Regions from separate parts of the Homo sapiens genome. Here all the other regions are reported to be linked to region 7. Evidence: microRNA targets listed by miRTarBase, many of them from high-throughput screens and not tested one by one. Region 7 holds a microRNA gene; each other region holds the end of a gene's coding sequence.
Evidence for each region. Region 7 holds the annotated microRNA hsa-miR-377-5p (AGAGGUUGCCCUUGGUGAAUUC, at 2,119-2,140, shown strand). A microRNA usually pairs through its seed, bases 2 to 8, with sites in the 3' UTR of a target mRNA and lowers its output. Matches are read on the target gene's strand: a 7mer-m8 pairs with bases 2 to 8, a 7mer-A1 pairs with bases 2 to 7 and ends in A, and an 8mer does both.

Region 1 (3,096 bases), not on the chromosome of region 7:
ATTTTATTCAGTTACCAAAACTCTGGCATCAAGGTGATCATGTTTTATTCTGTGATATATATCTTCCCTTTTTTTGTGAGGTTCAAATCATTTTATGGTGAATTTGAGACATGATATAAAGAAAAAGTATTTTTAAATTTGACACATTTCTTAGTAAATAAATTGAAATGAAACAAATAATAATCTCCCTAGGCCTTTAGTTATTGGTTCTGCATGATAATGTGTTGGGGGGTGGAGGGAATCTGAAGTCTAACACATTTAACAGAAGCTAGTTAAACTTTATTTACTGTAGCTACTAATAAAGAGCTATAAACAGGGAAAGGTGTGTGTGTAAATGTTGTTTGTGGTGTCTAGGTAACATTGGTGCAGGAGAGAATTGAACTTGGTTTGTTTTTCTTTTCCTTCAGTTGCAGGAAGAGGCAGAGGAAGAGGAAGAGGAAGAGGACGTGGCCGTGGCAGAGGAAGAGGGGGTCCTAGGCGATAATGTCTCTCAAGATTTCAAAGTCATATGAGATTTGGGATATTTTTTGTACAGGTTGTGTTTGTTTATGTCAGTTTTTAATAAACATAAATGTGGGACAGAGCTGTCTATTTAGTATATCAAAGTTTTAGTAGTTTCCTCCACATTCACGAAATTACCACAGTGAGAGCTAAGCATTTCTACTGGGCAGTTTCATTTTTAGTTGATCAGGTTTTAAGTTTTTGAACTAAAATTTTTCTTTTTCTTTTTATGATGAATAAGGTTAAAATAAAAGCCTTAGACAAATTAAATTTGGCAGAGTTTAATTGAGCAAAGGACAATTCACAAATCAGGTAGCCCCTGAACCATAATAGGCTCAGAGGCTTCAGCCCAGCTGCATAGTTGAAGATTTATGGACAGAAGGAAAGTGATGTATGGAAAATGGAAGTGAGATACAGCAACAGCCGGATTAGTTACAGTTCAGCGTTTGCCTTATTTGAATATGGTTTGAACAGTTCGCTGTCTTTGGTTGGCTGAAACTTAGTGATTGCCACAAGAGTAGGGTACCGTCTGTTTACACGTCCAGTTAGGCTACAGTTCTATGTACTGAGAAACCTTTAAGCTGAACTTGAGATATGTAAAGAGACTTTAGGCTAAACTTAACAATATATATAGGATATATACCCTTCTACTTCACATGCACTGAATATGCATTTTATTGCTTTACTCTTCATTCTGTGGCACCTACCCACAGGGGAAGTAAGAAGTTTGTTTTGGTATTTCGGAAACTAAAGTCCTTATGGGATGGGGTCTAGAATTGATTCTCCTTTCCTGAGTTTTACTCCACGGAGTCTTAGGTACCTGGTAAAAAGTTGTCTTCTAAATTAAGGGTCATTGCTTTGTTGTCTAGCTGCTAATGTCTTACTTTTGTTTCTTTTGCTTTTTAATCAGTTCTTAATAGGATATAGTTTTATGTTTTCCAAGTTATAACTTGGAGTTAATGGTCACTAGATTATCAGTTATGAGCAGTGTTAAAATCTCCTATTAATGTGTAATGTACCTGTCAGTGCCTCCTTTATTAAGGGGTTCTTTGAGAATAAAAGAGAAAAGACCTACTTTATTTGACAGCAAAACTGTTCTAATTGTTAATAAGGACTTTTAAAAATTGTTTTTGATTTGCTAAGCTCAGAAAAAATGTCTCTCAGTGCATCAGTTCTTTGTAAAGCTTACTACGAAGTATTTATATGCTAAGGAAAACAACTGAGGATGTGGGTGGCTTAAATCTGTATTTTCATCATGTATGTGAGTTTTTTTTTTTTTAAGTAAAGAAATTTTCTGCAAAGATCGTTACCTTAAAAAAGTTTAGCCTGGGTGTGGTGGCTCACGCCTGTAATCCCAGCACTTTGGGAGGCCGAGGCAGGTGGATCACGAGGTCAGGAGTTGAAGACCAGCTTGGCCAAGAGGGTGAAACCCCATTTCTACTAAAAATACAAAAGTTAGCCAGGTGCAGTGACAGGCGCCTGTAATCCCAGCTACTCATGAGGCCGAGGCAGGAGAATTGCTTGAACCCAGGAGGCGGAGGTTGCAGTGAGCCGAGATTGTGCCACTGCACTCCAGCCTGGGCGATGGAGTGAGACTACGTCTCAAAAAAAAATCGAGAGAGAGATATATATATGTATTTATATATATATGTATTTATACTAATATATAAATATATACTAATAGATATATTAGTATACATGTAGAATGTACCTGTCATATATATTAGATATATAAATGTATATATTGGTATAAATAAATACTAGATATATATTTTTTTAAGTATCTTACCTCATCAAGTAAATTCAAATGCTTTTTGATTTTTCCACAGTTGATAATTTTTTTTTGTAAGTCATTGAAGTTATATAGTAATTAGCGTTTTTTCCCCCACAAATTATTGGCAGTGGTCACCCAGTTGTATTACAGGTTCTATGATCCAAAAAGGGATGTATGAAATTCATGATGATTAAGACAATTTTTTCTTTCTTTCTTTTGAGACAGAGTCTTGCTGTGTCACCCAGGCTGGAGTGCAGTGGTGCGATCTTGGCTCACTGCAACCTCTGCGTCCCGGGTTCAAGAGATTATTGTGCCTCAGCCTCCAGAGTAGCTGGGATTATAAGCGTGCGCCACCACACCCAGCTAATTTTTTTGTATTTTTAGTAGAGACGGGGTTTCACCATGTTGGCCAGACTTAAGACAATTCTTTAATAGTAAATATATTAAAGGTGAGTTGGCTTGACAAGATACAACCAATATGTAATTTTTCTCCACACGTTTTTTTTTTTTTTTTTTTTTTTTTTCTGGAGACAGTCTTGCTCTGTTGCCCAGGCTGGAGTACAGTGGCGCGATCTTGGCTCACTGCAAGCTCTGCCTCCCGGGTTCAGGCCATTCTCCTGCCTCAGCCTCCCGAGTAGCTGGGACTACAGGTGCCTGCCACCACACCCAGCTAATTTTTTGTCTTTTTAGTAGAGACGGGGTTTCACTGTGTTAGGATGGTCTCGTTCTCCTGACCTCATGATCTGCACGAGGCCTCCCAATGTGCTGGGATTACAGGCGTGAGCCACCGTGCGTCCCCGGCCTATACCTTTCATTAATTA
Region 2 (3,096 bases), not on the chromosome of region 7:
AGAAGTTACTCAAACAAGAGGTGAAACAAATAAGTAAACAAAAAAAGACCACTTTATCTTCCTTTCATCCTTAAAGAAGGCAGGTGTCTGTACACTGCTTTGTGATCCTTCGAAGAATAAAAAGCTGTAACCCAAATCTCAGTATAAGGGATGAAGAAGGAAAATGATAGCAGCTGATGACTGGGATGCGACCACAAACCCATATAGTAAACTAAGTTATCAACGTACTCCCTTACCACGAAGGACTTCATTCAGTCATTTAAAAAGCAAGGGACTAGTTCAAATCATGATTAAGGCTATAAAAGAACACGACTGAGTATTCACAGAGCACCAATTACCTCAAGTTTAGACTAGGTGTCAATCTACAAACATACTACCCTGCATTAATCTTCACAACACACCTGCGAGGACATTACAAGAAGGCCCAGCCAAAATTAGTTCCTCATTTAATGGGATATGGCTTTCAGTGGGTTCCTGTAACACCATCTCTTTCTTGGAGAAATGAGGACCTGCAAAATAGTCCCCCTCACAATGAGATCTCTATCTTCAAATCTCTGAGAGCCCAAGTTATTTACTCTCATTGCTCAAGTTGCTTTCCTCTCTCTGTTGAGGTGTCAGAAATGGTCACGTTAGATTGGCCTCAGACAACCACAAAAGTTAACAAGCAGTCCCAAAGTACCGTGAGGTTTAACCACTGGAAATGTAAACTGCCGGTCCTGTCTTTGCCCTTCTACTTCCTCGCGTGACCAGAGTCAAATCACAATGTCCTTCAACTAACCAGATTCGCTCATCTGTGGACTAGGTTAACAGAAGAGGCTAGGCCAAATCTATGATACGGATCTAACAACCCAAATTTTTTAAATTAAGTCTTCAAAAAAAAAAGAAAGAAGTTGAGAGAGAGAAAAGTGATTTTTAAACTAACATATACAGTCTGAAGCGCTGTAATATGGAAACTTCCTGAACCACCTAATGAAAAATCATGAAAAGGGATCAACCTGTTGAAAGAATAGAGACAGGTGAGGGGATAATTTTTGTCTCTCATAATTGAGAAGTAAATCCAATCACTATTACAGAAGACTATTTATATATGCACCATCCATCTTTACTGATATACTATACATATGCCTTAATGGCTTATAAAAAATCCTATGTAAATTAACATTTGAAACAAGTTGTCATAGCAGAATGGAGTAACCTGCTGTAAGGCACTGAGAGAATACAAAGGAGAAGTATGTCATGCACAATCTCACTTCCTCATCTCAAATATTATGTAAAAACCACTTGCAAATACCATAGTTTACTCACAGTTGGCACATTTTAGAAATCAACAAAGTTTTGAAAAACAATACAAGTGAAAAGATGATTTAATTTGCAAAGAACTCCTGAAATACTCCATAAGCCCCCCACTAAAAACCTGTAAAGAGTTTTTCTTGCCTCTGACCTGAAAATTCAAGAAGAAAAGTTGTAGTTATAAGAAAATAAAATAACAGGCCAAGCACAGTGGCTCATGCCTGTAATCCCAACACTTTGGGAGGCCGAGGCAGGTGGATCACGAGGTCAGGGGATTGAGACCATCCTGGCCAAAATGGTGAAACCCCGTCTCTACTAAAAACACAAAAATTAGCTGGGTGTGGTGGCGCATGCCTGTAATCCCAGCTACTCGAGAGGCTGAGGCACAAGAATCGCTTGAACCCAGGAGGCAGAGGTTGCAGTGAGCCAAGATCACACCACTGCACTCCAGCCTGGCGACAGAGTGAGACTCTGCCTCAAAAAAAAAAAAAAAAAAAAAAAAGCAAGACAGAAAATAACAAAGACTCCTTAGCCCAAATTGTACCAGCAAGACTAAAGAAAATAATTTTTCTACTTCACGATTCCTTTCCTTAACTGTAAATTGATGACACTGTACTTAATACTTTAAAAACCCAGTCAAAGCAAACCAATGACTTGATCCTACCAACTCTAAGGAAACTAAGGGTATACACCCTAAGTTATCCAAACACAACTGAGGTTGAGGTCATTAAACCGGTAAGTATACGCCCTATACTAACTCACAGCTGAAAGTGTACATGGAGCAAAAAACAAAGAATACATATCCCAAGCGAATATTTTGTCTGGTGACACATCAGGAAGCCACAAGCTCCACTTCATTTAAAAAATTATTTGGGTATCAGCGGTGTGGCAAACATTCAAAATTCTCCTTCAAACAGTTGGAAGAAAACATGTAATACATTCCAGAGCAAAGATGAATCAAAAAGTATCTTTTTGCTCAGGAAAAGAATTTCTTCATTCAATTACAGCATAATTCATTGAAAGGGGAAGTCATGAGTCTCTTATGAGAGTTCCTGAACAGTTTATAAATACAACAAGAACATTTATTCAATAAATAAGTGGTTCCTAAAGTCTTTACTGATGATCTCCAGGATTGTCCATCGCTATGGTCCAGGCCAGCTCCACTTTCTCTGACAGGCTTTAGCTGCCAGTGGAATGGGATGTTTCCTGTCTTTAGGTGACTCTTCTTGTGTCATACAGACTTTCATCAATATGTCTCTTCATAGTCTGAATCCTGGAGGGAGCAAAACAGCAGGTGTGAAACACAATTCCAGAGTTGGAATTTAGGCAAAGACCACATGTTAGGATCCTCCAAATGGAACCTGGCTTGGGGAGACAGCCACAGTGAAATGCCACTGACTCAATACACCTAAATTCCCACGGAGCTTCACAGGACCTCAATATAATTGGTGTCTATTGGGCTAATTTCTGCTTTGAAGCCCTAGTGGTTTCCTTTCCCTTGGTGAATATTTTTTAGAACCTCAACACACAAGAAAAGATGCCCGCCTACCGCACCCTTTCTTAGCAAAACAAGTGTCAGTGGAATCACCCCAGCGATCCTCTCCTCACTCTCTTGCAGAAATGTGCAAAATTGTGGTTAGGAATTTAGACTAAGTGTCAGTCTACCACTGAGTTCCACCTCTTGTGGCTGTGTGACCTTGGATAAAGTTATTAACTTCTCTAAGCCTCAGTTTCCTCATCTGTAAAATGGGGATAATAAAAATACACCTCATAGAACTGTTATGAGAATTGAATGAGGCAATATAT
Region 3 (3,096 bases), not on the chromosome of region 7:
CTGTCCTGCAGTAATGCATTAAACCACGTAACAAACGAACTCAAGAAGAGGGATGTGGCTCTGGATTTGTGACCCTCAACATAACATTTACCACCTTGGGCTTCGGCTTCAACATCAGTTAAATGGAGGGACACAGACGACTCTTTGGCTCTTATACTCTATGACATGATCACTGGCCACCTTAGAAAATCAAGCCTATTTAGACCACGGTTTGTGAGAAGTCAGACTCTCTGAGGCTCAGTTTCCTTATCTATAAAAAAGAAGATGATAACATTGGGAGAAGCCATCTTAAGCAGCGAGGAAAGAAAAGGACAGTGGAGTCAAGTGAACAGTCTCAGATCTCAGCCCCGTGTAATCTAAGGGAAGGTTACTGGAGCTGGGTCTACTTTCGTCATCTGCAAAATGGGGATAAGAATGCCTGTTGTAAGGACAGTTGAATGATCTTGCTCATGCCAACTTACAGAAGGTACGAAATAAACGCCGATCTCCTTTATTCTGATCTCACATTCAGCAAATGTGAGAGAAATGTGAATGTACTGAAATGTCTGCCAGAAAAAAGAAAATCCAACCCCTCAAAAGAATGACATCAGGGGTTTTGATATCTATTCACCTACACTTCCCTCTTCCACAGGAAGCGGCCCACCTTCTGACCCACACTGCCCATCTCTGTGCTTATCATGGAGCTTTCAAGAGTGAGGATCGGAGGCTGTATTGAGCAGTGGGCACAAACCACAGGGAGCGCTGTTCAAAAATGGAAAACAAGGTGGCCCTGACACCGGGTGCTGCTGGGCACCCTCTCAGACCTGCCCTGCAACAGCATCAGGAGGCTGAGGGTCCCCAGCCAGAAGGCCCAAGAGGGGCCCAGGCTGGAAACTTTACTGCGAAGCAGCCCTCATCTTAAGGTGGCTCAACACCACACCTGAGATCTAGCCCATGCGACAGTATGGAAGCAGGAGGCCCTACTCCACCACAGAAAGAACATTTATGGGCGCCTAAGCCCTGGGAGAATGGCACCTGAGGGAACAGAGCGTGCCCACAAGCAGACCTTGGGGAGGGAGAAGAGGCAGCCCTGCTCCTAGTCGCAGCCAGCGTGCGTCATGTCCAGGCCCCACAAGGGTGACCCTGGCTCAGGTTCTCATGCTCCAGAAGCTGGCCCAGGTGGCAGTGGGTTCCCTATGGAGGCAGCTCATCATTCACAACACAGCAACAAACCTTCTGCTCTCATGAGGAGAATGTATTTTAAACTTGGGAAGAGTCATAATTCTGGGATGTTTCACATGTTGTCAGCTTTAACCTTCTACAGACACAGGCCCTCTCCTCTGTGAGGAGGGACCTCTGGCATGTGTGGGTGTGTGGTGGGTCCCTCTCCCTATTAGCAGAAATGTGTTGGGCATGAGCCAGGTTTATGATTTGGATTGTGTCCTGCACATAACACCTGTGAGAATACAACTGGGACTAGGACAATGCGGGAAGCATATTCTTCATGAGGCGGTAACCAAAAGGCTTGGCTATACCAAAGGATTCTGGTGGCCGGGCACGGTGGCTCACACCTGTAATGCCAGCACTTTGGGAGGCCAAGGCGGGTAGATCACTTGAGGTCCAGGAGTTCGAGCCCAGCCTGGCCAACATGGTGAAACCCTGTCTCTACTAAACATACAACAATTAGCTGGGCATGGTGGTGGGTGCCTGTAATCCCAGCTACTGGGGAGGCTGAGACAGGAGAAATGCTTGAACCCGGGAAGCAGAGGTTGCAGTGAGCCGAGATTGCACCACAGCACTCCAGCCTGGGTGACAGAGCAAGACTCCACCTCAAAAAAAAAAAACCACAAAAAAACACAAAAGGATTCTGGGTGTAACAATCTCAGTAGAGCCAGCGGGTGACTCTGGTTCTCCTAAAATTCTGCCCTTACTTGCCACTCACCACACCCCCAGATCTGAAGGGCCAGCCCTTTTCTACCTATGACACCTCACCAGCAAGTAAAGGGCACAGGACCTCAGAAGTCTGTGGTGCTAAGGATGAAGACTCTACTCAGAGAAGGTGCTCAGCCCTAGTGAGGAGGTTCTGGGAAGCAGGTGGGCCTGCTCAATGCAGTCCCTAACCCTTGGGAGCATCCATGTGAGAGGTAAAGGTGCAAATGACTTGGGCATGTTGACTCCCTACTGAGGAAGGCAGGGCCCCTCACATCTGCAGTGGCCGTATGCATCAGAGAACGGCATGACTGCACATGTGAGAACTGGGTGCACCCGAGCAGTGTCAATAGGAATCCCTTCCCTATTCCATGCCAAACAGTCTTCCCCAGACACAAAGTTTCCAGGTCCTGAGGCTTGACTCTTCTAAGGCTCAAAATGGGTTCTGTTTCCAGACGTGCTTGCCTTGCTTGTCTTTGCTTGTCTTAAGGACTCTATTTCAGGCCAATACTTGATCCTCAGACAAACTGGGACAGGTTGGGAACTTTGATGTTGAGATCGCCAATGTTGATGTTCCGAGGAATCTCTGGCAGGTTGATGTTTTTCACAGCAGACACAGCCCGCGCAGGGGCTGCTGAAAGGCCACCCTAAGAAGAAATGAGAGGCGAGTATGAGACAAATTCTCACTGTTATCTGCTTAATGCTAAAAAAAAAAAAAAAAAAAAAGCAAAAACAAAAACAAACAAGCAGGATGGGTGTGGTGGCTCACGCCTGTAATCCCAGCACTTTGGGAGGCCGAGGTGGGTGGATCACCTGAGGTCAGGAGTTCGAGATAGGCCTGGCCAACATGGTGAAACCCCATCTCTACCAAAAATACAAAAATTGGCCAGGAGTGGTGGCGGGCCCCTGTAGTCCCAGCTACTAGGGAGGCTGAGGCAGGAAAATCGCTTGAACTCAGAAGGCGGAGGTTGCGGTGAGCTGAGATCACGCCACTGCACTCCAACCTGGGCAACAGAGTGAGACTCTGTCTCAAACAAACAAACAAACAAAATAACAGGTGAAGGATGCCTAGAAAAATTCCAAACTGAGCACACACAACTGAAGTTTTAACTTTCCCCCCTTATTCCTCAAAAGTAGCCAACAAAACAATCTTGAGGTTAGATGGGGTTTGGCACAGGGATCCAAAGC
Region 4 (3,000 bases), not on the chromosome of region 7:
CTGAACTTCTTGGACTTGCTTTTATTTTAATAATTCCTGGCCAGGCACGGTGGCTCACACCTGTAATCCTAGCACTTTGGGAGGCCAAGACGGGCGATCACCAGAGTTTGGGACCATCCTGGCCAACATGGTGAAACCCATCTCTACTAAAAAATATAAAAACTAACCAGGCGTGGTGGCACATGCCTGTAATCCCAGCTACTCGGGAGACTGAGGCAGGAGAATCACCGGAGCCTGGGAGGTAGAGGTTGCAGTGAGCTGAGATTGCACCACTGCACTCCAGCCTGGGCAACAGAGCGAGACTCTGTCTCAAAAAAAAAAAAAAAAAATTCCTTTCTGAGTTTGTGCCAGGAGCCCATAATACACCAAGTTAAAAAGTTCATAAACATAGCTATCAAAACCTATCTTTTAAGAACATAACATTTGGGAAGTTCTCAAAGGGAATTGATGGCTTACAAGATTTGCTTCTTTTTTGGAGAAATCTACCTTGAATGGCACCAGAAGCTTGAAATCCACATTGTAAACTTTAACCCTGAAAATAGCCACTTAATTACAAATAAAAAAGATCTCCAATTTAAGAAATGTTTTTGTTTGTTTTTAGTCTTTCAGTCACTTGATAATACAACTCTAGGCTGGAATCCAGAAAACCAGTCTAATTCAGTCACTTGACAGACAAAAAAAAAAACCCCTAAGATGTAGAGGTAAAGTGACTTGCTTGGTCACACAGCTAATTCACCAGAACCAAGAGTGAAACCCAGGCTTTCTGATTCAGCTGTTTCCACACCTGGTAAAAGAACAAGGGGTTCTGCACTGCTCTGGCAATTTTTCCTAAGCACGTGTTCCCAGGTGCTGAGATGACTGTGTAGGTTGTGTGAACCTCATACAACTGGGCTGCATCTGAAGAGATGTCATTCAACCGTGGACACTGTAGATCTGTACACATTTTATGAGAATGTTCTGGCTGTTAGCAGTACAATGGGTTGTGCTCATGAAGGCAAGCAATCTTGGAGAGACCCAAGTTGCAAATCACTTCTCAGTCCCAGAGGCCGCATGACAAGAAAGAAAAAAAAAACAACAACCCCTTTTTATTTTTTATCTTAAGCTCCATTCTCCTTTGAATTAATGTTGACTTTGAAGAGAAAAAGGCAAAACACAAGCAAAGAAACAGATATTTATTTAAAAAGGAAATTCCAGGGAAAGTACCCTGCTTTACCTTAGGAGCTGCATCCGGCCAAATTACTTATAGCATCGGCATCTGCAACCATATGATCCCTGATGTTTAGAAATCGTGATCCTGAAGCCCTAAATGATCCCCAATCAAAAAGCAGTTAAGTTATATCTACCATACTGTGCTAAGAAAGTCTATTTTATCATGGTTTTCAACCAGAATTAAAATAGGAAAAAAGGGGGTTTTCTGGCTAACCAGAAAACTCTGTTCCCTGAGCATCCCAACAAACTGAGCCTGTGTAATAAAGAGACTGCTCTCTCTAAACAATCAGTCTAGCATAACTCATCAAGTATAAACCAAACCAATCACCAACCAAAGGAAAAGATCCACCCCTTCTAACTTAAAACATTGAAGATATTAAATGAGTGTTCTTCACTTTTGGAAACAATGTGAAATGTCTGTATTATACACAGTTGCAGACACATCAGAAAAAACAAATTAATTTTCTATGAAATTGCTAGCTGCTCTTTGTTTCAATTAAATATGAAAATAATAAAGACTGCTTTAGCACAGGAAGAGATAAATATGTGGTTGAACTAATACAGCAGGATGTTTCAATACTGTTAGACTGTGGGCTTTCATAATCCAGAAGGCTGGATGTTGCACGGAACACTTTCAAGTCCATCTACAGAAGGACTCAGGTTCTGCTACCATGGATAAACCTTGTAGTGACTGGTCAGAACCTCCCAATGAACAACTCAGAATCCTAGGTCTAAGTCAGGCAGCAAATGATGTATTTTGGAAGAGTAGCGGTCAAATTTACCAATTCAGTGATCTCAACATGTGACTATTCTTGAAAGAAAAAAAAGCTTGGCAACAGAAAAAACTAATAATAAAACAAGAAAGAACAATCTTTCTGGCCAGGATCCCAGTTATTTTTCAGACAAAATGTATTTATTTATTTTTTTGAGACGGAGTCTCGCTCTGTCGCCCAGGCTGGAGCACAGTCTCGGCTCACTGCAAGCTCCGCCTCCCAGGTTCACACCATTCTCCTGCCTCAGCCTCCCAAGTAGCTGGGACTACAGGCGCCTGCCACCATGCTTGGCTAATTTTTTTGTATTTTTTAGTGGAGACGGGGTTTCACTGTGTTAGCCAGGATGGTCTTGATCTCCTCGTGAGCCGCCCACCTCAGCCTCCCAAAGTGCTGGGATTACAGGCGTGAGCAACCACGCCCAGCTGTCAGACAAAATTTTTAAGAAAACAAAATTTTTTCCAGAATATTACATTACAAAAATCAATGAATAAATGAACTACACTGTAACTTTAATACTTATTCCATATGAAAAACCAAACTGTTTCTGGCAATTTGATTGATCTCTTGAGAGTCTGCAGTGCATTCATTCCATGGTTAAAACCGTGTGTAGGCATTGCGTTGCTGCTGCTGCTGTAATGGCTGCTGGGCTTGCTGCTGTTGTAAGCGAATTTGCTGGGAATAAGGGTCTTCCAGGGATTTTACAAATATGGTAGTTCTGGGACCAGTCTTCCATACTATACCATTGGCATCTTTCACAGAAGATTCCACTGTAATGTTGTGTGTTCCAAGGATAGCAAAGTTCAACAGAAATTGAGTACTGAAGTAATCATTATGAGGTTCAACCCTTTGCTCCATCTCATTGGTCATGTTGTCAATGGGTATCTGCAATGAAACAATTGTTAACTAACAACAATGGCTAACATTTCTTCAGTGCTTACTATGAGTTAGGCCCTGTTCTAAGAGCTTATTTAGACCATGCAGACAATAAAAAATTAGGTACTGCTATCATCCTTGCTTC
Region 5 (3,096 bases), not on the chromosome of region 7:
GGTAATAACCATCAGAATGACATATTCATTTATCCTTTGACCCAGAATTTTAACTTCTTTCTGGGCTCTGAAAGGTACATTTAGAAAAATTTGGAATGCTATATGCAAAAGATTAAAAATACTCGTGTCTATTTAACAGGAATGTATTATGGTGCATCCACATGAGGGAGTACTTAAGTCACAAAACAATGAAGAGTTCTATATAACGTAAAATGGTCTCCAGGATAGAGTAAGTGGAAAAGCAAAGTGCAGAACATTTATGGTATACCCACTACATTTGTGTAAGAAAGGGTGAGAAATGTGAATGTATGCACATAGGTGTATTTGCTTATGTTTCAAAAAGAAACGAGTAAACCCAAAGCTAATAAAAATTGTTAGCAGGGGAAGGAAGGAGATGAGGATGGAAGCTATTCTGTGAATTTAACTTTTTCTAGAGTTTTGACTTTAGAACCATCTAAAATTTAACATGACTGAAAAAGTAAAACATGACCCTAAACCTATCAACACATTGTCTTAGTCTATTCCTGCTGCTGTAACAAAATGCCATAGACTAAGAATTTATAAATAATATTTACTTCTTGCACTTCTGGAGGCTGGAGAAGTCTAAGATTTGGCACCAGCAGATTGGTGTTTGGTAAGGGCTTGCTTTCTGCTTCCAGTACGGTGCCTTCTCGCAGTATCAGAAGGGTAAAAGGGACAAACTCTCTCCCTCAAGCCCTCTTAGAAAGGCACTGATCCCATCCATGAGTGTGGAGCCCTCCTGGCCTAATCACCCCTAAGGGCCCCACCTCTTAATAATACCAACGCATTGTGGATTAGATTTTAATGTGAATTTTGGAAGTACACAAAATGTTCAAACTATAGCATGTATATATATCAAGTTGGCAGTATAAACTACTTGCAAGTAACTTTAGAACACAAGTGTTTGCCCATTGGTAGTGAGATGGATTCTAAGTTGAGATATTAGCTAGAACATTCCAGTTGGTAAGTTGTCATACATATTTAAGAAATATGAATCCAAACTAGATTGTGATAATTCCCTCATAACTTCACCTCCACCTGAGTTTCGGACTCTGCTATCCAGCTGCGTACTAGTCTTCATCAGATGACACAGGCATCTCCAACACCGCATGACTGGAACCTGAACTCGCTTATCTTCTGTTTCCCCTAAATTTGTTCTTTTTCCAAATTTTCTATCTTGGAGTTGCCCTCTTGGAATTGCCCTCTACCATCTATCTAGACACTTTTATCAGGAACCCAGAGAACCATCTTTACCTCTTAGATATAATCAGTCTTGTAAGTCTTGCCCAATTTTCTTTCCTAAAACTTTAAAAATCTGTCCTCTCTCCTCTACTAATACCACAATGTTAGTTCAGGCCTTCATCTTCCTCAACAACTAAGACATCCTCCTAACTGGTTGTCTTGCCTGTAGCTTTTTCCTCTCATGGCCATCTGCCACACAGCTGTCACTTACCTGTATTACAAACTGATGATGTCATTCCTGTGCTTAAAACTCTGTAATACCTGGTATGTCAGTCTTAATTCCTTCACATGATTTGTGAGATCCTCCACAATACGGGCCTTGTCTTGTGCTTCATATTTCTGATCTACTGAAGTGACTGTGGTTCTCTGATGCTACAGAGTGCCTTTGCTTCTTTGTGCTTTTGTTCCCTCTGTGTGCAGAAAAAAATCTCACCCCTCACCTCCTGATTTATTAAGTTCTCCAGGAATATTTTCCTGATGTTAAGTAGGTACTTCCATTCAGTATGTATATTTTTATCACTGGGCTGATGATCACACTGTTGAGTTACTGAATGAGAACTTTGTGCTACCCTTACTCATTTCTGTTATGGATTAAATAAACATAAAAATAGGGAATATATACTGTTCCAACAAACTTTTCCTCTTTAGATGGAGACTTTCAAGGACTTAAAGAGGCATAATTTGTTTTAAAGTCCCTTAAGGATGGACAAGAAAACACTTAGTGGTTCTTTTGTTCAGCCATCACAAGAAGAAGTGGAGCATTAGATAATCCAGAACAGCAGCCTTGCTATCCAATCTGTTTATCTAACAATAATAGTTAAGGGGAGCTCTGCAGGTCAGCAAAGCTAGTCCAGGATTACAAACTGCCATACATGAGCTACATGTCAATTAGTTGGATTATGTATAAGATAGCATTTTATGAAATAATGCTCTTAATACAAAAACCCCTATATGTTACTAAAAGATTAAACTTAAAAGGAGGGTATAAAAAACATTCACAGAAAATATTTATTATGCTACTCTTTGTACTATGTATGGGAACAGTATGTTTGTTAAGTCCAAGAGAAAAGATAATTCACTGACATGAAACACCCAAATGTCTTCATTTTAAAAGTAGTTTAGAGATAGCATCAGGTAGGCCAAACAACTGTACTGGGCCCCTGTAGAGATTAGGGTTTGGTCTATTAAAAAAAATCTTTGCTTGCTGGAACTGCAAGCTTGGCTTCCCTGCAAGCTCAATAGGTTCTGGAGCTCATTTACCATGTCGCTCGCTGGATCCCAGAAAGTTGCCCATGGTCAGCTAAGTGACGGAAGACTATACGACTAAGCCTCCAGCGCCGCTTCACACCACGCGGACGGGACGTCATAACACACCGATTTCTGATTCTAACAGGACAGCTATCCCGGGGGAGGGCAGCAATTTCTTCATCAGCCACATCCTAAGGGAAATCACATTATTACACAGATCACATTACATTGTTGCACATGTATTTTGCTCCTTCTCACTTGCAGGTAATTTTCTTTTCTTTTTTTTTTTTTTTTGAGACAGAGTCTCGCTCTGTCACCCAGGCTGTGGGTGTTAGATTGTGCAATGTCACAATCTCAGCTCACTGCAACCTCCGCCTCCTGGGTTCAAGTGATTCTCCTGCCTCAGCCTCCCGAGTAGCTGAGATTACAGGTGTGCACTACCACACTCAGCTAATTTTTTGTATTATTAGTAGAAACGGGGTTTCACCACGTTGCCCAGGCTGGTCTCAAACTCCTGAGCTCTGGCAATCCGCCCATCTCTGCCTCCCAAAGTGCTAGGATTACAGGTGTGAGCCACAGCGCCTG
Region 6 (3,096 bases), not on the chromosome of region 7:
TGGGCACAATGGCTCATGCCTGTAATCCCAGCACTTTGGGAGGCCGACAAGGGCGGGTCACTTGAGGTCAGGAGTTCGAGACCAGCCTGACCAACATGGTGAAACCCCATCTCTACTAAAAAATACAAAAATTAGCCAGGCATGGTGATGCACATCTGTAATCCTAGCTACTCGGGAGACTGAGGCAGGAGAATCTCTTGAACCTGGGAGGTGGAGGTTGCAGTGAGCCGAGATTGTACCACCTCACTCCAGCCTGGGTGACAGAGCAAAACTCTCAAAAAAAAGTAAAATTTCAAAAAAGCTTCACAATATAAACCTTAATTTTAATGACATATTGGCTAGTCAATAAACAAGTCTTATCTCATCTCATCTCTTTTCTGATAACAAACACCCGATGTGTTCAATTTGCTTTCATATTTAAGTCTTTCCTGAATTGCTGTCATCATTCAACAACAGTTGCATGTCGCCTTGCTAGCTGTCAAAGTAGACTTCATCCCCAAATGGATATCTGTAATGAAAGAATACAAAGGTGAAATTTTATTTAAAAATTTTTTAAAAGAATTTGGTTTTGGATTAAAAGGCATGCAAGCAGCATTAATTCCACTCACAGTTACAGTCTATCACCTGGGGCATTCACTACTTTTCAGAGTCAGATCACAGTTCAAAAGACAGCTCTCACCTTGGGGGCATATTCCCCAAGTCAGTGTGAACATGTCTTGTCCCAAGAGGACACTTTATACGCATGGATGTTCACAAATTTATTCTAAACTGCAGGTGTCTGTCAGGATTCATTTGTTAAACATGTCCTCTGTGTTAAAAATCCTAAAATCCTTTTGCATTTCTTAGAAAAAATCACGTTTCTGATGAAATTCTAAAGATGTTTGCAATATTAAACTAGAATATATTAACATGTATAATTTTGAGACAAGGTCTTGCTCTGTCACCCAGGCTGGAGTACAGTGGCTCGATCATAACTCACTGCCACCTCACGATCCTCTTGCCTCAGCCCTCCAAGTAGCTGGGACTACAGGCGTGTACCACCATGCCTGGCTAGTTTTATTTTTAGTACATAGCCTTGAACAACTGAGCTTAAGCGATCATCCTCCCTCAACCTTCCAAAGTGCTAGGACTGTAGGCATGAGCCACTGCACCTGGCCTAAAATTACATTGTTACAGGCACGTAAGTAACACTTCCTGGATCCAAAAATGTGTATTCTGCATTTCAACAACTGAACTTAAGCGATCATCCTCCCTCAACCTTCCAAAGTGCTAGGACTGTAGGCATGAGCCACTGCACCTGGCCTAAAATTACATTGTTACAGGCACGTAAGTAACACTTCCTGGATCCAAAAATGTGTATTCTGCATTTCAACAACTGAACTTAAGCGATCATCCTCCCTCAACCTTCCAAAGTGCTAGGACTGTAGGCATGAGCCACTGCACCTGGCCTAAAATTACATTGTTACAGGCACGTAAGTAACACTTCCTGGATCCAAAAATGTGTATTCTGCATTTCATATTAAAATAAAAAAGCAAGTGCTTGGGATACAAATATCTGCATGAAAATTTAAAGACTTTATTCCTGACTGGTATCACTTTTAGTAAGCAGTTGAACATAACTTGTAGTGTGAATATGGTTAAAACAAAGGACACCTGATGTCTGTGAAGTCTGCTAAGGACAGGTACAAAATTTATGCATTGCTTTTTAAAAAGTTTAAAATGAGGAATGCTTTTGATAATCAGAAAGACTAATGTAAAGTGCTGACTGATGTCCTGTCTGCAGTTAAGGAAGACACCCAACTCTCTTCTTCCTCATCATGGTATTCTCTATGTATAGATCTCTAAAAATGCAAACTTCCTATGGACAAGACAATATGATTTGCTATAATATGAATTAAGATATGGTAATATCTAATAGTCTCCACTGCTAGGATTCTGAGTAACACAAAAAATAGGTTTTATAAAAAGCCCATGCACTTCAATTGGTGGGGGAAAAGAATAAAGTCATTTTCAGTCGACTGACTCTGTAAAACAGATTACCAATATAACAAGCTATGTTATCTAAATTGCCCTGGCAGTCTTCAGTTTTCTCTAAGTAAACAAAGTAAAAGGAACAATAAGGATGCAGGCGTAGTAATAGCTGTGGAAAAGATGAAACTACAGCCACAGTGACCTGTGGGCAGCCTGCGTAGAGATAAGCTGAGGTGTCAGTCAGACTGATCCTGGTAACGATACTCCATGGCTGCATGAAGATGCTGGAGGCATCAAGTGGGTGGCCTTAACTCTAGTGGATTCACTAGGCAATGTAAATTGGTTAGTGGGTTCCCGTAAGTGCCTGTAACAATAAAATTTCTTTTTCAATGTCCCCAATTCAAACTGGCCTCCTTAACTATCCAGAATCAGTGATGCCTGTCATCTGTTCATCTTAAAATAAACACTTCTTACTTTATGGGATGTAAATATCAAAGAGAAGATGAAATGAAAAGCTTTTACATATATAACGTGTTTGTTAATTCTAATTGTCAGTAAAAATGTGAATGTTGAAGTTGAAATGTGAATGTTGAAGTTGGCACCTTTGTAGTAATCAGAATTCTTGCAGAGAAGAGAAAGAGAGTGAAGAGTATACTTTACAAAGCTCGAAGGAGACTTGAGGCTGTCGTTTGTGCTGGTGTTCCTCTAGCCACAGGGGCTGCTGACCGGATCCTGTCCACGTGGTCCAGCCACACCTCTTGCGGGGCTGTATGTGCTGCCTTGGTCTGGGCTGCCTGCGGCTTCAGACTTGAGCTGGGCCTTTTCCGCTGCGGGTGAACCTTCTGTATTCCCTGATGTGTCTTGGCCAGAGACAGGCTTGGCCGACTGGCTGCTTTCAGTACTGCTTTCTTTCGGTGTGCCTTCCCCCAGGATTCCACCTGTCTCCTTGGGCTTTGTATCCAAAACAGGTGATTTATGCTATAAAGTACAAAATTACATTTTAACTGTTTAATGTAATGTGAAGTCTTAGTAATCAAACATATCTAAAAAGTTCCCACCCAAATCCGTTGTAGCAAGCTCCAAACTCTTTCAAATCCAGGGTCCAGTGCTGGGTTATAATTATAT
Region 7 (3,096 bases):
GTGTGCCCTGGCCCTAACCCTGTGTGTGCCCCGTCCTTGGGGAGGTTTCTAGAGATGGTGCCACCTTTGGGGAAGAAGTGGAGCTTTTCCTATCAGAGCTACTCTGTGGTACTGGTGGAGAGGTCTTCCATGATGCATTCGATTTATTTTTTGACCAATCCTACATAGTGGACTCTTTTGAAAGCATTAAATCTAGCCTTAAAGCACCCTCGGGTGGTGCCGAGTTTAGGAACTAGAACTGGTGTCTGAATGCCTGAACGCACGGCGAAGCTGACAGTGTGCACACTCTTCTTGGTGGGTCGTGCACCTGCAGGCGTCCTGCTTGCTTACCATGGCAGTTTCCTCGAAAGAGGCGGCAGTTCCCTCATCGGCTCACTGCATGTTTGACAAGACACCGTCTTGCTGTCTTCCCTGCTGCCCTCTCTTCATGTATCACAGATGGTGCTCTGCAGACCTCTCTGCTGTGGCACTTCCCTCCCTGAATGGCTTCCTGCAAGAGGTGCTAATTGCAAGTAAGGGATGGAGTGCGGCCCGGACCGCAGAGCTTATTTCGTGGGTGGTGTGTTGCCACCTTCCTGACTCTCAGTATCCCGTCCGTCCTCAGGCCTGCTGCTGGGACGCGCTGGAAGCGAGCACCCAAGTCAGGTACTCGAATGGAGGTTGTCCATGGTGTGTTCATTTTATTTATGATGAGTATTACATGGCCAATCTCCTTTCGGTACTCAATTCTTCTTGGGAAACGTCACGAGGGGAAAGCCCAGCCGGCACCTGCGCAGGGTAAGGAAGTGGATCACCTCCGCATGACAGGTGCTCTCTGTGTGACTTACATCACTTGGCTCATATCCCGGCCATCATTAGGAGGAATTCCCCGAAATGATGCTGACGTTTTAGTTGACATGGTGGTCTTCTAGTCGCATCCTTGAAGACTCGTCAGTGAATAAACCACATTTAGTCAACCTTTTTAGGTGTGAAATCATCTTGGCTGTGTGGCACACTTTAGGGAAAGGAACTCCTGGCTGAATGGAAGACATCCACATTACGCCCTCAAATACCTTATCTTCTGGGTGACCTCTGGGAAGCAAGGGGTGAAGGGGGTTTCCTCAGCAGTGAGAATTAATGTTGTTTAAAGACACATTTCCATGGCACGACTCGGTTATTCCTACTGCAAGACGAGAATTGTTAATAGCATTTATTACTACCTTATGTTGCCAGCTGTGTGCCCTTGGAAAATCCCTTCACCTATCAGCTCTCTGGGCCTCAGTCTCTTCCTCTGTAAAGCAGGGTTAACAGCGGAGTGGAAACGTGCTCTTTGTGAAGTGTCTAGACAGCGTCTGGCACGTGGCTGTAGGATAAGCATTGTTTCTGAGGATGGTCATTATATGAATGTTATGTCATCTGCACTCATTGTCCTCTCGCCACTAGAATGGAAGCTCCCTGAGGGCAGAGTCCTTGTCTGTTTTGCCTGGTGCTGTGTCGCCAGATGTGCACAGTAGGTGTGATGCTGAATGAATGAATAGGCAGCGTGACCTGTTTTCTTGGTTGAACTCTCTTTGAGGCCTCCTGGAATGGAGTGCATGGAGTACAGTCACCTGAGCCTGTGCTGTCCCTGTGACGCAGCCCCACCCACCCTCTGAGGATGCTGCGCTGGACGAGGAGTCGCCAGCCTTCAGGTCGGGTCCTCCCTCAAACCCCTGTAGGCTGGACTGAACACGGTCACATGGTTCATTGGCAGCCCCCTTCTCTGTGTGAAATCCTGCTTCAGAGACTTCCAGAGGAGATACCGGCTCTGGAGGTGGACCTTGGTGTTCCAGCCCCTCTAGGGTAGGTGACCAGGGGCTGACTCTAGCTCGGGCTGACCTGTGATGTGTGTGTGCATAGCCTCGCCCCCACTGCCTGCTCCAGGGCTACAGAAGCTGGTCCATGACCAACCATGTTCTGACCACTGCCTGGGGGGCTTCTCGGAGGTAGAGAGAGAGAGAGAGCAAGAGGGGAGAGAGCGAGCCAGCAAGCCAGCGAGCCTGCAGCTGGAGTCAGCAGGGAGGTCCCGCAGGCAATGCCGCCTTTGGTGAAGAGGCATCTCGGTGTGTTCTTGCCCGTGCTGATGTTTGACCCTTGAGCAGAGGTTGCCCTTGGTGAATTCGCTTTATTTATGTTGAATCACACAAAGGCAACTTTTGTTTGAGTATCAAATCCTGCTTGGGATGGCTTCCGGGACCCAGTGGCAAGCTCAGGGGCATCTACACCCCTCCCGTGAGCAAGAATGGACGGGGTAGACGTGGGTGGTCTGCCCTCTGCGGTCCTCTGCGGTGGATGAGAACAGATGTCGCTCAGAGAACACAAGCTTCATTCATGATGGGGGCGGGGCTCGCGGCCCGGGGAGGATGGCGTTGGTGTCGCGTCGGCTTTAGCTCTTACCCTGGACCCTGTCTCTTTACATCACCATTTTGGCTGTGTTGATCCCAAAGACATTTTGACTCCACCATTTTTTTTTCGGAAGGTATTTGACCTCGCGGATACACAAAGAGCTCACACTTGGCAGGGTCTGTGACGAGTCTGCAGCCCCAGACCCCCGTCTAGCTCACAAGCACTGTGCTTCTTTCTGCACCTTTCCTTGTCTCTATCTTTCTCTTTCTATCCCCCAACCAAACATTGTTCCCAATTTTCTCCTGGGTTATGAAACAAATAGAGGCTATCAGTATCTCATCCCATTTGTATTAAATAATACTGATAAAAATAATCAACACAAAATAAAACTAAAAACAGCTGAAACGGCACAGTGCTAAATGTGTTCAGTTGACTACAAATTGGCAGAGGAATCCAATTTTCTTGACAACATTTCAGCTGTGACATTTGACCTGGGGAAATAGCAAGCTGCCGACGTGGCAGCCATGGAAGGAAATTCACGGTGGCGGCGGTGATAAACAGTGATATTTGATGTAGACAAGAACACATTGAGGAATCAAATCTTCATGCAGATTTTTAAATGGAAAAAATTGATCCTAATGAAAATGATTTGGGGAAAATAACAAGGGAAATAAGAGAAATGAAAACAGCTCAACAGCGCGGTCAGGAAAGCTAAACAGGGAATTGGATTAG

Region 1: miRTarBase lists SNRPD1 as a target of hsa-miR-377-5p. Seed matches in the 3' UTR shown: 7mer-m8 at 2,554-2,560.
Region 2: the mRNA of MPZL3 is a reported target of hsa-miR-377-5p. Seed matches in the 3' UTR shown: 8mer at 2,004-2,011, 7mer-m8 at 1,703-1,709 and 7mer-A1 at 682-688.
Region 3: miRTarBase lists AP3S2 as a target of hsa-miR-377-5p. Seed matches in the 3' UTR shown: 7mer-m8 at 1,745-1,751.
Region 4: the mRNA of INTS7 is a reported target of hsa-miR-377-5p. The part of its 3' UTR that is shown has no 7-base or 8-base seed match.
Region 5: miRTarBase lists MRPS14 as a target of hsa-miR-377-5p. The part of its 3' UTR that is shown has no 7-base or 8-base seed match.
Region 6: the mRNA of CLCC1 is a reported target of hsa-miR-377-5p. Seed matches in the 3' UTR shown: 7mer-m8 at 214-220.

The regions. Positions count from the first base shown.
Region 1 is chr18:21,628,655-21,631,750 of GRCh38, forward strand. SNRPD1 (small nuclear ribonucleoprotein D1 polypeptide) reads left to right here. Exons shown (of 4, transcript NM_006938.4): 4 at 408-3,096. The coding sequence ends at 484. Among named protein-coding and RNA genes, the nearest start is that of SNRPD1, 18 kb to the left of the region's middle.
Region 2 is chr11:118,227,358-118,230,453 of GRCh38, forward strand. It overlaps MPZL3 (myelin protein zero like 3), which reads right to left. Exons shown (of 6, transcript NM_198275.3): 6 at 1-2,563. The coding sequence ends at 2,537. Among named protein-coding and RNA genes, the nearest start is that of JAML, 3.9 kb to the left of the region's middle.
Region 3 is chr15:89,833,089-89,836,184 of GRCh38, forward strand. It overlaps AP3S2 (adaptor related protein complex 3 subunit sigma 2), which reads right to left. Exons shown (of 6, transcript NM_005829.5): 6 at 1-2,555. The coding sequence ends at 2,427. It overlaps ARPIN-AP3S2 (ARPIN-AP3S2 readthrough), which reads right to left. Exons shown (of 10, transcript NM_001199058.2): 10 at 1-2,555. The coding sequence ends at 2,427. LOC124903552 (a long non-coding RNA gene) reads left to right here and starts at 2,821. Exons shown (of 2, transcript XR_007064754.1): 1 at 2,821-3,096.
Region 4 is chr1:211,939,248-211,942,247 of GRCh38, forward strand. INTS7 (integrator complex subunit 7) reads right to left here. Exons shown (of 20, transcript NM_015434.4): 20 at 1,156-2,864. The coding sequence ends at 2,577. Among named protein-coding and RNA genes, the nearest start is that of INTS7, 95 kb to the right of the region's middle.
Region 5 is chr1:175,012,150-175,015,245 of GRCh38, forward strand. It overlaps MRPS14 (mitochondrial ribosomal protein S14), which reads right to left. Exons shown (of 3, transcript NM_022100.3): 3 at 809-2,702. The coding sequence ends at 2,520. Among named protein-coding and RNA genes, the nearest start is that of MRPS14, 9.7 kb to the right of the region's middle. RefSeq lists a silencer at 510-710.
Region 6 is chr1:108,931,994-108,935,089 of GRCh38, forward strand. CLCC1 (chloride channel CLIC like 1) reads right to left here. Exons shown (of 13, transcript NM_001377458.1): 12 at 2,632-2,949; 13 at 1-508. The coding sequence ends at 2,677. GPSM2 (G protein signaling modulator 2) reads left to right here. Exons shown (of 15, transcript NM_013296.5): 15 at 1-2,552. Among named protein-coding and RNA genes, the nearest start is that of CLCC1, 30 kb to the right of the region's middle.
Region 7 is chr14:101,059,938-101,063,033 of GRCh38, forward strand. It overlaps MIR377 (microRNA 377), which reads left to right and starts at 2,113; the gene lies at 2,113-2,181. It overlaps MIR496 (microRNA 496), which reads left to right and starts at 636; the gene lies at 636-737.